Regions from separate parts of the Homo sapiens genome. Here region 2 is linked to region 1. Evidence: fine-mapped expression QTL. Tissue or cell type: whole blood. Region 1 holds a variant in brackets; the other region holds the start of a gene. All regions are shown on one strand. Distances are between the middles of the regions.

What was found. PIP is the estimated chance that this variant, and not a neighbour inherited with it, causes the effect.
Region 2: it holds the start of IQCE, and the variant in region 1 is fine-mapped to the expression of IQCE in whole blood (GTEx, PIP above 0.99).

Annotation. Positions count from the first base shown.
Region 1 is chr7:2,530,418-2,538,470 of GRCh38, forward strand. BRAT1 (BRCA1 associated ATM activator 1) reads right to left here. Exons shown (of 14, transcript NM_152743.4): 14 at 7,393-8,053. The coding sequence ends at 7,652. Among named protein-coding and RNA genes, the nearest start is that of MIR4648, 7.4 kb to the left of the region's middle. RefSeq lists enhancers at 332-481, 876-1,848, 3,034-3,954, 3,955-4,874, 5,584-6,085 and 1 more. The variant G/A (reference allele first, on the strand shown) is at 4,045.
Region 2 is chr7:2,555,226-2,563,276 of GRCh38, forward strand. IQCE (IQ motif containing E) reads left to right here and starts at 3,754. Exons shown (of 22, transcript NM_152558.5): 1 at 3,754-3,992. The coding sequence starts at 3,957. BRAT1 (BRCA1 associated ATM activator 1) reads right to left here and starts at 299. Exons shown (of 14, transcript NM_152743.4): 1 at 262-299. RefSeq lists silencers at 54-293, 3,636-4,145, 4,366-4,435 and an enhancer at 206-883.

The sequences.
Region 1 (8,053 bases):
TGACTCACCCGGCAGGGGAGGTGAAGTCATTCCTCCCCCAGGTACATTCTGGGGACAGCTGTGTCCCACCCACCAGTGGTGCCATCACATCAGATTAGAGGTCTGGTCAGAAAGGGGCCTGGCTGGTCCCTGGGGCTCCATGTCCCCCCAGTCTAGCCCAGCCAGGCCCCCTTTCCCAAACTTCTGATCATTAATGGGGCTTTCAAAACAAGTAAAACTGCAACCACAGGGGCTGCAGGGCGCTCAGCGAGGGTGGCAGACCTCAGCCGCCACCCCTGCTTCCGTTCTGCCAGGCGAGTGCCTGGGGAGCCCCAAGGCTGCTTGGGGTCTGGGAGGGGCTGCTAGGGTGGGGCGCCTCCCCACTCAGTTGAAAGGAACTTCCCTTCCACTGGGGCCATCAGGGCCAACTTCCTGGAAGAGGTGCCTCTGAGCTGAAGCAGGAAGGCTTTGTCAAGATGGAGTAGGGAGAGAAGGGGCCTTCCAGGTCTCAGCACAGCCTGGGCAAAGGTGCAGAGGTGGGATCCACTGGGAGGACTGGAAGCCTGGGAAGGAGGGCAGGCAATGCAGTTGGGTCTCTTGATCCCCCCTCCCCAATCACAGACAACTAGGGCTCTCCACAGGCTCAGAGGGGCCAGGGCCAGGCTGCTATGTGACTTCAGCCATTCTTGCCGGGTGGGCCTGGGGTCAGAGGGAAAGCAGGGACCAGGGCCAGATCCATCTTCGAGTCTGTCAGAACAATGGGCAAGTCTTGTTCCCTGCTGGGTCCATGTGCCCACACAGCCTCAGCCTTCTTAGATATTCTGCAGGGTGACCCCCTGCTTCTGAGCCCAGAATTGGACACACAGGAAGGCCCTTGGGGCCAGGCGTGGTGGCTCACAGCCGGGCTGTGCCCTCTGCCTGGAGCCGCAGCCTGGATGCCTCCCACCCCACATTTAGGCTTCAGGCCCCACAGCTGCCTCTTCCCAGAACCCTCCCGGCACGCACTTCGGCGACTCTTACAAGTACCTGTTCAGCGTCAGCCTTCGCCCAGGAGTGCAGGCTGGGGACGAGGGCAGTGGCCACCTCTGCCGGTCCTGTCAGCACCTAGTGCAATGTCCAGCCCACCGTGGGCACTCAACGCAGGCGGCTGTGCTGCCGCAGGTCACAGCACCAATCAGACACCCCCATCCCCACACACACCCTGCACCGGCCCACGCGGCCATCACACTCGGAGCACACGCGCTCCGATGTGGCTGCACTGTTGGCACACGCACAGGCGCGCACGTGGGCGCATACACGCCGGGGCGCCCTGACCTCCCCGCACGCCCTCCCGCAGCCGCCCCGGCCTCTGTCCCCACGCGTGTCACACACGGCTGGGTGTGCTCGCTCACGCCGTCCCGCGACGTTGCTCCAGCCGGTGCCCGGAGCTCGATCGGGAGAGCTGCTGTTGGCCGCCTCTGCCTGCCAGCGTTTGCCAAGCGGTTTCCATGGTGACACATCTTGGCTCCGACAGGAACCAAGGAGTGTGGGGAAGAGGGTCCCCACGGAGGGGGCGAGGCGAGGCAGGAGGTCTCTGCGTCTTCAGGCTCCCGGCAGGCATGGGGGGCTCCACGAGTGCAGACACCCCCCAATCCCAAGCCAGGCTTGCACCCCGAGAAGGAGGCTCTGGGCTGGTCCCTCTGGGCTGCCTGGCACAGGGACTGACTTAGGTCAGTCAGTCATTCAACAAACTTTCTGGAAGAGCCACTCTGTGCTCACAGCCGGGTCTACGATGCTGCCCAAGACGTGGTCTCGCAAGAGGCTCGGAGTCGAATCCTGAGGCTAAACTGACGTCCCGCCACCCTACTGAAGGCCCCATCTAGCAGGTTGGTCCGTGGCTGCGTAAGCACCAAGGCCCACCAAGCACTTTCTCAAAGGGGGGCTCCCCTCTGTGGTAGATCAGTTACAAACGTGTCCCCGATGCCCCACTCCTCCCTGAATCACCACGCCCTTTGCTGTGTGACTTTGCCCCAACTCCTGTCTAGAGGTGGCGTCTACTTCCCCATCCTTCAATCTGAGCCTGTCTTATGACTTGCTGTGGCCAATAAAAGGTGACAGCAATGACATTCCCAGCTCTGAGCTTAAGCCTCCAGGGACATGCGTGCCTCTGCCTGCTCTCCCCGACTCCTGCTATAGCACGAGAACGGGCTGGGCTGCTTTGCTGGAAGGCAAGAGGGCGATGGAGCCTGGGTCACCCTAGCTGAGGCCATCCTGGACTAGCTAGCTCCCAGCTGCCCACAGATGTGTGAGTGAGCCCAGCTAGGACTTGCCAGGCCTAGCAATGAGCAGCAGTACCACCAGGCCCTTTAATACTAAGGACATGTGAAGTCATGTGTTTGGAGCTATTTGTTACTCAGCACTAGCTACCTGATACCCCTCTCTCTAGGGCCCTGGCCAGCAGCTGCCCAACCTCAGTTAGCACAGGCCAGAGGCTCTAAAAGTTCCCAGGGGTGCTAAGAACCAGGCCATGGTGACAGCTGGATTCCGCTGGCTAACAGTGCCAGAGGGTGCCGGGGACAGAGCTTGTGGGAGGGGGTTCCCATGACAAGTCCATGGCAGGAGCTACTGAAGCAGAAGCACGAGTCTCCACTGCCTTTCTTTGCCTCGGTTTTTCCCCCTGTGAAATGGGCCCATCACCCTGTCCTGTCTCTTGGGGACCCCTGGTAAGGTAGCGTGTGTGGCAGCTGGAAACAGACCTACTACGTGCCAGCCCCGGGTTGCAACCTAGGGAGAGAGGCCCATTGCTGCCTTCTAGGTTCCCACAACTGAGAAGGCAGCGTCACTAATCCCAGCTTACAGACTGGAAACAGTGGGGAGAGGATGAGTGGCTTGCCCGAGGCCCAGGACACACAGGAGCAGGTGGGCATGGCCACAAGCCCCGGCTGGGTCTGAGCTGGTGGTTATCTTCATGTTTTTCTCCCTGTGGTCACCTTTTTGGAAATTTTTTTTTTTTTTTTTTTTTTTTTTTTACATTTGACTATTTTCTTGTTTATTGGTATTTCTTTGGGAGATTTTTTTTTTTTTTTTTTTTTTGAGATGGAGTTTCGTTCTTTTTTTTTTTATTTTTTTTTTTTTTATTGATCATTCTTGGGTGTTTCTCGCAGAGGGGGATTTGGCAGGGTCACAGGACAATAGTGGAGGGAAGGTCAGCAGATAAACAAGTGAACAAAGGTCTCTGGTTTTCCTAGGCAGAGGTCCCTGCGGCCTTCCGCAGTGTTTGTGTCCCTGGGTACTTGAGATTAGGGAGTGGTGATGACTCTTAACGAGCATGCTGCCTTCAAGCATCTGTTTAACAAAGCACATCTTGCACCGCCCTTAATCCATTTAACCCTGAGTGGACACAGCACATGTTTCAGAGAGCACGGGGTTGGGGATAAGGTGACAGATCAACAGGATCCCAAGGCAGAAGAATTTTTCTTAGTACAGAACAAAATGAAAAGTCTCCCATGTCTACTTCTATCCACACAGACCCGGCAACCATCCGATTTCTCAATTTTTTCCCCACCCTTCCCGCCTTTCTATTCCACAAAACCGCCATTGTCATCATGGCCCATCCCCAATGAGCCGCTGGGCACACCTCCCAGACGGGGTCGTGGCCGGGCAGAGGGGCTCCTCACTTCCCAGTAGGGGCGGCCGGGCAGAAGCACCCCTCACCTCCCGGACGGGGCGGCTGGCCGGGCAGAGGGGCTCCTCACTTCCCAGTAGGGGCGGCCGGGCAGAGGCGCCCCTCACCTCCCGGATGGGGCGGCTGGCCAGGCGGGGGGCTGATCCCCCCACCTCCCTCCCGGACGGGGCGGCTGGCTGGGCGGGGGGCTGACCCCCCACCTCCCTCCCGGACTGGGCGGCTGGCCGGGCGGGGGGCTGACCCCCCACCTCCCTCCCGGACGGGGCGGCTGGCCGGGCAGAGGGCTCCTCACTTCCCAGTAGGGGCGGCCGGGCAGAGGAGCCCCTCACCTCCCGGACGGGGCGGCTGGCCCGGCGGGGGGCTGACCCCCCCCCACCTCCCTCCCGGACGGGGCGGCTGCC[G/A]GGCGGAGACGCTCCTCACTTCCCAGACGGGGCAGCTGCCGGGCGGAGGGGCTCCTCACTTCTCAGACGGGGCGGTTGCCAGGCAGAGGGTTTCCTCACTTCTCAGACGGGGCGGCCGGGCAGAGACGCTCCTCACCTCCCAGACAGGGTTGCGGCCCAGCAGAGGCGCTCCTCACATCCCAGACAGGGCGGCGGGGCAGAGGCGCTCCCCACATCTCAGACGATGGGCGGCGGGGAAGAGGCGCTCCTCGCTTCCTAGATGGGATGGCGGCCGGGAAGAGGCGCTCCTCACTTCCTAGATGGGATGGCGGCCGGGCAGAGACGCTCCTCACTTTCCAGACTGGGCAGCCAGGCAGAGAGGCTCCTCATATCCCAGACGATGGGGGGCCAGGCAGAGACGCTCCTCACTTCCCACATGGGGTGGCGGCTGGGCAGAGGCTGCAATCTTGGCACTTTGGGGGGCCAAGGCGGGCAGCTGGGAGGTGGAGGTTGTAGCGAGCCGAGATCACGCCGCTGCACTCCAGCCTGGGCACCATTGAGCACTGAGTGAACGAGACTCCGTCTGCAATCCCAGCACCTCGGGAGGCCGAGGCTGGCGGATCACTCGCGGTTAGGAGCTGGAGACCAGCCCGGCCAACACAGCAAAACCCCGTCTCCACCAAAAAAAAAAACGAAAACCAGTCAGGCGTGGCGGCGCGCGCCTGCAATCACAGGCACTCGGCAGGCTGAGGCAGGAGAATCAGGCAGGGAGGTTGCAGTGAGCCGAGATGGCAGCAGTACCGTCCAGCTTTGGCTTGGCATCAGAGGGAGACCGTGGAAGGAGACCGTGGAGAGAGAGGGAGACGGAGAGGGAGAGGGAGAGGGGGAGGGGGAGGGGGAGGGGGAGGGAGAGGGAGAGGGAGAGGGAGAGGGAGAGGCTGTGTGTCAGAGGTTTTCCTCGGAGTTTCGTTCTTGTTGCCCAGGCTGGAGTGCAATGGCACAGTCTTGGCTAATTGCAACCTCTCCCCTTTTTGGAAATATTGTACTTCCTGAGCTAACTGCACTTACGAGGTAATGATTGGTGTGAGTTTCTAGTCTCTGTTTGTTTGTTTTTTGAGACAGAGTCTCATTCTGTCACCCAGGCTGGAGTGCAGTGGCACAATCTTGGCTCACTGCAACCTCTGCCTCCCGGGTTCAAGCGATTCTCCTACCTCAGCCTCCTGAGTAGCTGGGATGACAGGCACCTGCCACCATGCCCAGCTAATTTTTGTATTTTTAGTAGACAAGGTCTCACCATGTTGGCCAGGCTGGTCCTGAACTCCTGACCTCAAGTGATCCACCCGCCTCGGCCTCTCAAAATGCTGGGATTACAGGCGTGAGCCACTGCGCCCCGGCTCGCTCCTTTTTTTTTTTTTTTGAGACAGAGTCTCACTCTGTTGCCCAGGATAGAGTGCAGTGGTGTGATTTTGGCTCACTGCAACCTTTGCCTCCCGGATTCAAGTGATTCTCCTGCCTCAGCCTCCTGAGTAGCTGTGATTACAGGTGCCCACCACCATGCCTAGCTAATTTTTGTATTTTTAGTGGACGGGGTCTCACCGTGTTAGCCAGGCTGGTCTTGAACTCCTGAGCTCGAGAGATCCGCCCACCTCGGCCTCCCAAAGTGCTGAGATTACAGGCGTGAGCCACCACGCTGGGCCCTGCAGTCTCTTTTCACTGGGTACTGCGGTTCAGTGTTACTGCCTAGGGGCAGCTGATCCGCAGAGCCCCTCCCTCTCTGAGTTCCCCCAGGCCAGAGCTGAGAGCCAGGCTCTCCAGATCCCTGTGGGAGGGCCTTGTATCTGAGTCCAGTTTTCCTCCAGCACGAGGCCTGGCATTTAATTACCTGCTATCTTGTCAGCTGTTCAGTGTTCCTGGCCTTTGGATATTTCACCCAGCGTGTTTCATCGTCTTCAGGGAAACGGCTGGTCCAGGCACCTAGCCTGCTGTCACCAGGAAGGGACATGTGCCCCGAGGCGGGGCTGATGTCACTGCTGCACCCTGGTGGGGCGCACCAGCCCACGGCTGTGCCACCCGGGAGGTGCCCTTTTGTTGGAGGGCATTTGCCAAAACCAGCAAACTTGGGTTCTCATTCTGTGGCCTTGAGGGGTCAGGGGGACAGAAGTCAAGGGCCAGTCCTGCCCAAAATGGGGAGCATTATAGAAAACCCTTCCCACCTTAAGCTGAAAACCTAAAGGTCTACACTCTTAGGGTAAGAATGAAACGGAATTAGCCCTGCTCCCTCCACACGAAAGACACTTGGTGCTAAGAGAAGCAAAAAGAAAAAGTTCTTCAGAAGTTAGGGCTACAGGTCTTCTCTAGCACAGATTTGAGGTGCTAGCACAGATTTGAGGTGCTGCCAAGAATGCAGAGAACTCCAAGCACTCAATGCGTTGTTTTGACATAGGGTCTCTCTCTGTCACCCAGGCTGGAGTGCGGTGGTGTGATCACGGCTCACTGCAGCCTCGAACTCCTGGGCTCAAGCAATCCTCCCACCTCAGCCTCCCAAGTAGCTGGGACTTCAGGTGCATACCACCATGCCCAGCTAATTAAAAACAAAAGAGATACGGCAGGTGGATCACCTGAGGTTAGGAGTTTGAGACCAGCCTGGCCAAACTGGTGAGATTCTGTCTCTACTAAAAATACAAAAATTAGCCAGGCATGATGGTGGGCGCCTGTAATCCCAGCTACTGGGGAGGCTGAGGCAGAATTGCTTGAACCCAGGAGGCGGAGGTTGCAGTGAGCCGAGATCACACCACTGCACTCCAGCCTGGGCAACAAGACTGAGACTCCATCTCTGAACAAAAAAAAATGTGTAGAGATGGGGTCTTGCTATGTTGTCCAGGCTATTCTCAAACTCCTGGCCTTAAACAATCCTCCTACCTCGGCCTCCCGAAGTGTTGGAATTACAGGCGTGAGCCACTGCGCCCAGCCCCCAGGAATAATTTTAACCAAAATAAATTGGCCGGGCGGAGTGGCTCACGCCTGTAATCACAGCACTTTGGGAGGCTGAGGTGGGTCAATCACCTGAGGTCAGGAGTTCGAGACCAGCCTGGCTAACATGGTGAAACTCCGTTTCTACTAAAAATACAAAAAAATTAGCCAGGCATGGTGGCGTGCGCCTGTAATCCCAGCTACTCGGGAGGCTGAGGCAGGAGAATCACTTGAACCCAGGAGGCAGAGGTTGCAGTGAGCCGAGATCGTGCCATTGCACTCCAGCTTGGGCAACAAGAGCGAAACTCCATCACAAAAAACAGACAGACAGACAGATAGATAAAAAATAAACAGTGCTGGGAAAACTGGATATCCACATGCGAATGAATGACACTGGACCCTTGTCTCAGATCATTATTATTAAATTAACTCAAAAAGGGTTAAAGAAAGACTTCAATGCCATTTATTTTGAGTAGAAATAAGTCATTTCTTTAATACATCAAACTGTGGGATTTCTTGACCTTGCTTCTCTCCTGGTCCTGGCTTCCCCAGAGGATCCACCGGGCTGGGCTGGAGCCCTGGGGCTGGCAGTGTCCCACAGAAGGACATGGTGCTGCCTCCCTTGGTCCTGAGCCCCAGTGGCAGACTCTGGTTCTGCTCAGTAGCAGTCGGCCTCGTCCCCCTGCAGGAAGCCTCCCGTGGCCAGCATGTCCTGCAGGAGGGACTGGGGACTCTTTTCCACGTGGTCGCTGCTCTCGGCCAGCGTGCTCCGCAGGCCCTCCAGGTCTAGGGACCTGAGCATGGCCAGCACAGCCTCAGGCTCCTGGTCCCCTGGGGGCTGGGCCTGCTCACCCGCCCGCCACCTCGGCAGGGTGGCCTCTGCGGAGGCAGTGTTGGGGCTGCCCCTGGCCTCCCGCAGGCTGCTGTAGGAAGCAATCTTGTCCCTCAGGAAGAGAAGGAGGTCACAAGACTTCTGCGCCACAGGGCGGTCGCAGTCAAACAAGGCACAAAAGGCGAAGTCAAAGAGCCCCACGTGGCAGAGAGCCCTCAGTGCCTCGGT
Region 2 (8,051 bases), 25 kb after region 1:
TCTGCCAATGCCCGGGAAGGCTGCGTCCCGGGAAGAGGAACCCTCCCCACACTTTGAAGTCAGTTTTGGCCGCGAGCGCCAGGCCCGAGAGTCCAGAAGGGGCGCCAGAGCAGGCGGCCACAGTCGGGCTGGGAAGCGAGCCCAGGTCGCGCACGCCCCGGGCTGGGCTGCTCCCTGGCCCGCCCGCCCCCCTCGGCCGGGTCTTGGCCTCCCCGCGCCCCACTACCACGACCTCGACCCCCGAAGGCCCACGCGCCTCACCGCTCGGTTGCGTCCTCCGCCGCAACCACCCCTCGCCCAAGGCTCCGCCTCCGGACAGTGCCACCTGCCAGGCCCGGAGGAGGCGGAGGACGGAGACGGCTGGCGTGGGGAACTGAGACTGCACCCCTGGAGGCCGCTCTGGAAGCCTCGAGGGCCCAGACTTGAAGGAAGGAGTTCAAGCTGAGAGGGGCTGGGGACAGGCAGGCGCCAAGCCGGTCGCTCCGACAGATCACCCCCGCCAGGCGCCTAGTGGTTCATGCCGAGCATCCGGTGGGTGGGCGGGGCGTCTCGAGGGCGGGGATCTCTGAGGAAGGCGCGGGGTTGTGTCCGGAGGGGCGGGGCTTCGCCTGCAGGGCGCCCAGTGTCTGCACCGGCGGGAGCGAGAAAACTATGTGCCGGAGAGAAGCGTCCTGATCCGTGCACCAAAGCCCTTGGTCATTTAGCTTCAGGTTCTCAAATTAAGTCCTCCGCGGCCGCGCTGTGGCTCATGCCTGTAATTCCAGCCCTTTAGGAGGCGCAGTTGGGAGGATTGCTTGAAGCCAGGAGTTGAGACCAGCCTAGGCAACAAAGCGAGACCCCATCTCTTAAAATTTAAAAAAAAAAAAAAAAAAAAAAAAAAAGGCCAGGCGTGGTGGCTCACGCCTGTAATCCCAGCGCTCTGGGAGGCCCAGGCGGGCGGATCACGAGGTCAGGAGTTCGAGACCAGCCTGGCCAACATGGCGAAATCCCGTCTCGTCTCTAATTTTTGTATCTCTAAGATATCAAAATTAGCCGGACGTGGAGGCGCGCGCCTGTAATCCCAAGTACTCGGGAGACTGAGGCAGGAGAATCTCTTGAACCTGGGAGGCGGAAGTTGCAGTGAGCCAAGATGGTGCCACTGCACTCCAGCCTGGGCTACAGGGCGAGACTCCGTCTCAAAAAAAAAAAAAGAAAATCAGCCAGACCTGGTAGCATGCGCCTGTGGTCCCAGCTACTCCAGAGGCTGAGGCGGGAGGATCGCTTGAGCCCAGAAGTTCAAGGCTGCAGTGAGCTATGATCCTGCCCCGGCACTCCAGCCTGGGCAACAGAGCAAGACCCTGTGTTTTAAGAAAGCAAACAGGCAGAAAAACTAGGTCCAAAAAATTGAGTTCAAAACACTAACTGTGTGTTCGAGAGTCTCAAAGCCAGTGGATAGACAAGGCTCATGTTCCCAAAGCATTGTTTTATAGCAAGATTGTTGGGAGCCAACACCAGATTTAGGAAACAAAGCAGAATTCCTATGGATATTAAAATTTAAAAATTTAAAAGCACTGACTTTGCTGGGTCACCTTTATTTTATTTATTTATTTATGGAGACGGAGTGTCACTCTTTTTGCCCAGACTGGAGTGCAATGGCTCAATCTTGACTCACTGCAACCTCCACCTCCTGGGTTCAAGCGATTCTCCTGCCTCAGCCTCCCGAGTAGCTGGGATTACAGGTGCGGGCCACCACGCCCAGCTAATTTTGTATTTTTAGTAGAGACGGGGTTTCACCATGTTGGCCAGGCTGGTCTCGAACTCCTGACTTTAGGTGATCCGCCCACCTAGGCCTCCCAAAGTGCTGGGACTACCAGCGTGAGCCAACGCGCCCAGCCGTGCTGGGTAACCTTGGAAAAGCAACTTCCCTGACGCTTGCATGCCCCCTGCACACACACACACACGTACATCCTTAGAACTACATGTGTGAAAAAGTTTGAAATGCACAGTTATCTTCCCTGAAATTTGGTTCCTCATTGTGAAATGAGATACTAACATTCACCCAGTTAGGTAATTGTGGAGTAAAGAAAACTCAACAACAGCACTGTGCTAAGTGCTTCACTTACTGTAAACTTGTATGATTCTACAGCAACGGTAGGAGAGTACCACTACCAGCCCATCAGATGAGGAAAATGAGGCACAGAGAGGCTAACTCATAAGGCCTTACAGCTACTGGATTGGCACAGTTTGGATTTGAACCCAAGCAGTCTGGCTCCAGATTTGAATATTGTATTGCACAGGTCCACAATTTTTTTTTTTTTTGAGGTGGAGTCTCGCTCTGATGTCCAGGCTGGAGTGCAGTGGTGTGATCTCAGCTCACTGCAACCTCCACCTCCCAGGTTCAAGCAATTCTCCTGTCTCAGCCTCCTGAGTAGCTGAGACTACAGGCACCCACGACCCCTGGCTAATTTTTGTATTTTTAGTAGAGACAGAGTTTCACCATATTGGTCAGGCTGGTCTCAAACTCCTGACCTCAAGTGATCCACCCACCCTAGACTCCCAAAGTGCTGGGATTACAGGCGTGAGCCACCATCGTGCCTGGCCCAGGTCCACAATTTCTTATCTCAAACTTTTGGGGACAAATGTTTTTTCAGAATTCAGAACTGTTCAGATTTTAGAAATGTGACATGGCACATGTACATTAAATATGAGATTACAGCAGAGTGTGACACACACCCCATAATTAAACGTATTAATAGTTATTCAGGGCCGGGTGCAGTGGCTCACGCCTGTAATCCCAGCACTTTGGGAGGTGGAGGCGGGCGGATCACGAGATCAAGAGAGCGAGACCATCCTTGTCAAGGTGGTGAAACCCGTCTCTACTAAAAATACAAAAATTAGCTGGGCGTGGTGGCACGCACCTGTAGTCCCAGCTACTCGGGTAGCTGAGGCAGGAGAATCGCTTGAACCCAGGAGGCAAAGGTTGCAGTGAGCGGAGATCGCACCACTGCACTCCAGCCTGGGCCACAGAGCAAGACTCCGTCAAAAAAAAAAAAAAAAGAAGTTATTCAGTGAAACTCACTCATGTACACCCCGTGGGATAAATAAGCACTATAAATAGCCTCAGCTCAGAGTTTTCCTCCCGGAGAGTTGAGGTTAGGACTGGTCTGGCCTTCAAATGAGTTGTGAAGGGCTTTCGGAAGTTTGTGGAATTCAGAATCACAGATAAAAGGTCGTAGATAGGCGCTGGCTCTATAATTAGATAAGAGAAGGGCAAAAAGTTTGCGAAGCCCAAGGGTGGGAGAGTGGCAAGAGGTACTTATGCACAGGGAGCACGTAGAGCAAAGCGCCCTGGGTGAGACCCTGAAAGCAAACGAAAGTTTATTATGTGTGTTTGTTTGATTGAGACAGGGTCTTGCTCTGTCGCCCAGGCTGGACTGTAGTGGTGCAATCATAGCTCACTGCAGCCTCGACCTCCTGGGCTCCAAGCGATCCTCCCACCTCAGCCTCCCGAGGAGCTGGGACTATAGGCGTGCACCAGCATGCCTGGCTTTTATTTTTATTTTATTTTTCGAGAGACGGGGTCTCGCTACATTGCCCAGGCTGGTATCAAACTCCTGGGCTCAATTGAATCTCCTGCCTTAGGCTCCCATAGTGTTGGGATTACAGACGCGAGCCACTGCGCCGGGCCGGTTTTTTTCCCCCTCTCAGCCCCCGCGCTCCGCCCCGGGAACTCCGGGAGCGCTCCTGGTCGGCCGGCCGGCGCCCGCGGACTCTGCGCACGCGCATGGTCGCCCCAGGGGGAACGCAGGTCGCTTACCCGGCTGGGTAGGTCGGCGGCCTGGTTGCCATGGCAGCGGGGTCGCGGGCCGGCGCCAGGGAAGGCCCCGAGGCTGCGGGCGGCCAGGGCTGCCCGCGGATTCCCAGACCCGGACGCCCGAGCCAGCAACCCTGAGGGGCGGCCGGGCAGCGCCGCCACCATGTTCCTGGGCACCGGGGAGCCGGCCTTGGACACGGTAAGAACGGGCGAGGGGGCGACGCCGGGCGGGCGTCCGCGAGGCCTCGGCTCGTCTCCGTCGCCCGCAGCCTCGGGGCCCCGCGCAGGGGCCGGCCCGGGGCGTGAGGACGGGGCGCACGGCCGGGTGACAGCTGCCATTATTGTTACCGCACAAGAGCGCGCTGCAGGCCCCGCGCCGCCTGCAGCCTCGCCCGCGCCCGCTTTCGCAGAGGCCGCCGCTTCCAGGAAGCTCTCCGGGACGCCGCGCCCTCGCCTCTGGGCGCCTGCGAGTCTGCGGCCCGCAGGTGACGGAGCTCACGGTGTAAGTGCCTCCGGGCACCCCCGATCTAAGGCGGGATCCACGGATCCCGTGTGGCCCCAAGCCTTCGGGGTGGGAGGGAGGCAGCCCCAGGGTCTGGGAACCCAGCTTGGTCAGAGGAGGCTTCCTGGAGGAGGGTGGGGCCCGATGTACTCCCCAGGGCGAGGGTGCATGAGCCTTAGGTTAGTTACTTTGCCCGGTAAATATCTACTGTGTGTTAGAGACACGGGAATAAGCTGCATTCCAGTGGGGGGGGGGGGGGGGGCGGAGGGACAAGGTAATAAACAGGTAATTAAGATCGTGTCAGAAAGTGAGAAGTGCTGTGCAGAAAATGAAACAGGCCCATATGGCCGGGAGCCGTGGCTCAGGCCGGTAGTCCCCCGGTAGTCCCTGCACTCTGGGAAGCCGAGATGGGAGGATCGCTTGAGGCCAAGAGTTCCAGACCAGCCTGGGCAACATCGCAAGACCCCATCTCTACAAAAAACCATCACATTAGCCGAGCTGTGGTGGTGCCTGCCTGTAGTCCCAACTACTCAGGAGGCTGAGGTGGGAGGATCGCTTGAGCCCAGGAGGTGGAAGCTACAGTGAACTGTGATCATGGCCCTCCAAGGCCTGAGAGACAGAGTGAGGCTGAGGTGGGAGGATCGCTTGAGCCCAGGAGGTGGAGGCTACAGTGAACTGTGATCATATCACGGCCCTCCAGCCTGGGCAACAGAGTGAGGCCCTGTCTCAAAAAAAAAGAAAGCCCGTTGGGACGCGGGCAAGGAGACTGAGCAGAAGATGGGCATGAGCCTGACTATGGGGAGTCCTGCTGGCCATGCAGGGAATTTGGATTTTATTGGAGAAACAGAGGAAGCCTTTGGAAGGTTTCACATCAAGGGAACTGTGCTCACCTTGCTTCCTCCTAAGGAGACCACAGGGTTCAGCACAGCTGCACCCGCAGTAGGGGCTTGGTGCTGCTGGCCAACTTGGAGCAGCTGAAGTTGCCTGCTTGTTCCCCAGGGCACCACGTCCTGTCTCATCTGGAGGGCCTGCCTGTCTACACTGGCCTTCAGTTACTGCTTCTTCATCTTTAAGAACAAAACTGCTTGTTGTGATTATAAAAATAATTTATGTATATTATTTATTTTTTATTATTTTTTTAAGACAGAGTCTCTTGGCCGGGCACGGCGGCTCATGCCTGTAATCCCAGCACTTTGGGAGGCTGAGGTGGGCAGATCATGAGGTCAGGAGATCGAGACCATGCTGGCTAACACAGTGAAACCCCATCTCTACTACAAATACAAAAAATTAGCCGGGCGTGGTGGCGGGCGCCTGTAGTCCCAGCTACTTGGGAGGCTGAGGCAGGAGAATGGCGTGAACCCAGGAGGTGGAGCTTGCAGCGAGCCAAGATCGTGCCACTGCACTCCAGCCTGGCAGCAGAGTGAGACTCTGTCTCAAAAAAAAAAAAAAAAAAAAAAGACACAGTCTCGCTTTGCCACCCAGGCTGGAGTGCAATGATGCCATCTCAGATCACTGCAGTCTCTGCCTCCCAGGTTCAAAGGATTCTCCTGCCTCAGCCTCCTCAGTAGCTGGGACTACAGGCGCCTGCCACCACACCCAGCTAATTTTTCTATTTTTAGTAGAGGTGGGGTTTCACCATGTTGGCCAGGCTGGTCTCTAACTCCTGACCTCAGGTTATCTACCTGCCTTGGCCTCCCAAAGTGCTGGGATTACAGGCGTGAGCCATTGCTCCCAGCCCTATGTAGATCTTTGATTTCTTTCAGCAATGGTTTATATTTTTCAATGTACAAAGCCTATGCTTTTGTTAAATTTATTCCTAAGTATTTTATGCTTTTTGATGTTATTGTATATTGAATTTTCTTAATTTCATTTCAGCTTATTTACTGCTAATATATACAATAATTTTTTTTTTTTTTTTGAGATGGAGTCTTGCTCTGTTGCCCAGGCTGGAGTGCAGTGGCGCGATCTCGGCTCACTGCAAGCTCCGCCTCCCGGGTTCATAGCATTCTCCTGCCTCAGCCTCCCGAGTAGCTGAGACTACAGGCGCCCGCCACCATGCCCGGCTAATTTTTTTGTATTTTTGGTAGACACGGGGTTTCACCTTGTTAGCCAGGATGGTCTCGATCTCCTGACCTCGTGATGCACCCGCCTTGGCCTCCCAAAGTGCTGGGATTACTGGCCTGAGCCACCACGTCCGGCCTTACAATAATATTTTTATATGAATCTCATATCCTGCAAACTTGCTGAACTCATTTATTATGTTTACTAGTTTTTTAGTAGATTCATTAGGATTTTCTATGTATAAAATCATGTTGTCTGTGAATAGAGATAGTTTTACTTCCTTCTTTTCAATCTGAATGTCTTTTATTTACTTTTCTCACATTAATGTCCTGGCAAAAGACTCAAGTATAATTTGAATTGAAGTGATGAGAAAGGACAGCCTTGTCTTGCTGCTGCTATTAGAAGGGAAACATTCCGTCTTCCTCTGTTAAATATTGTGTTGCCCTGGATTTTTGTAGATGCCATTTATTAGGCTGAGGAAATTCTCTTCATAGATTATTGAGTATCTTTATCATGAATGAGTGTTAGATTTTGTCAAACATACCTTCTGTATCTTTTGAGAAAATCATATGTTTCTTTTTCTTCATTTTATTAATATGGAATATTGACTGATTTTTGTATGTTAAACCAATCTTTCATTCTTGGTCTTGGGGTGTGTGTGTGTGTGTGTGCACATAAATATATACCAGTACCAATTAGGGTACATATATATATATATATAAAATCCTTTTCATGCCTACTAGCATTTTGTTGAGGATTTTTGCAACTGTATTCATAAAGAATGTTGGTCTGTAGTGTTCTTTTCTTGTGATATTTCTTTGTCTGCTTTTGGTATCAGTGTAATATAGGTCTCATAGAATGAATTGGGAAGCATTTCCTTCTTTTCTGTTTTTTAGAAGGGTTTGTGAAGCATTGGTATTAATTTCTCTTTAAATGTTTGATAGAATTCACCAGCGAGACCATGTGGTTCTGGGTGTTTCTTTACTTCTATAAGGTCAGTAGTGAGGCCCCCTTTTTTTTTTTTTCCCCCTGTATTTTGGTAATTTCGTGTCTCTGGGTTTTTTTTCTTGGCTAAAGGTTTGTCAGTTTTGTTGATCTTTTCAAAGAACCAACTTTTGGTTTCATTGATTTTTCTATTGTTTCTATTTTCTATTTCATTTATTCACTGTAATTTTTATTCCTTTCTTTTACTTCCTTTGAGTTTAGTTTTCTATCTCCTGGTTCTGAAGGTGAAAGTTTAGATTATTGGATTATTGCCTTGAGATCTTTCTTTCTTTTTTTTTTTTAATATAGGCATTTACAGCTACAAATTGCCCTCTAAACATGGCTTTTGTGTTTTTGATTATTTGTTTTTGTTTTTCAGAGACAGAACCTCACTCTGTTGTCGATGCTAGAGAGCAGTGGCACAATCACAGCTCCCTGCAGCCTCATACTCCTGGGCTTGAGTGATCCTCCTGCCTCGGCCTCCCAAGTAGCTGGGACTACAGGCGTGTGCCACCATGCCTGGCGAATTTTTTAATTTTTTGTCAACACTGGGTGTCACTATGTCACCCAGGCTGGTCTCGAACTTCTGGGCTCAAGCAGTCCTCACTCCTTGGCCTCCCAAAGTGTTGGGATTACAGGCATGAGCAGGTGCTCAGCTTGCTTTTGTTTCTTTGCGCCTGGAGTGCAGTGGTGCGATCATGGCTCACTGCA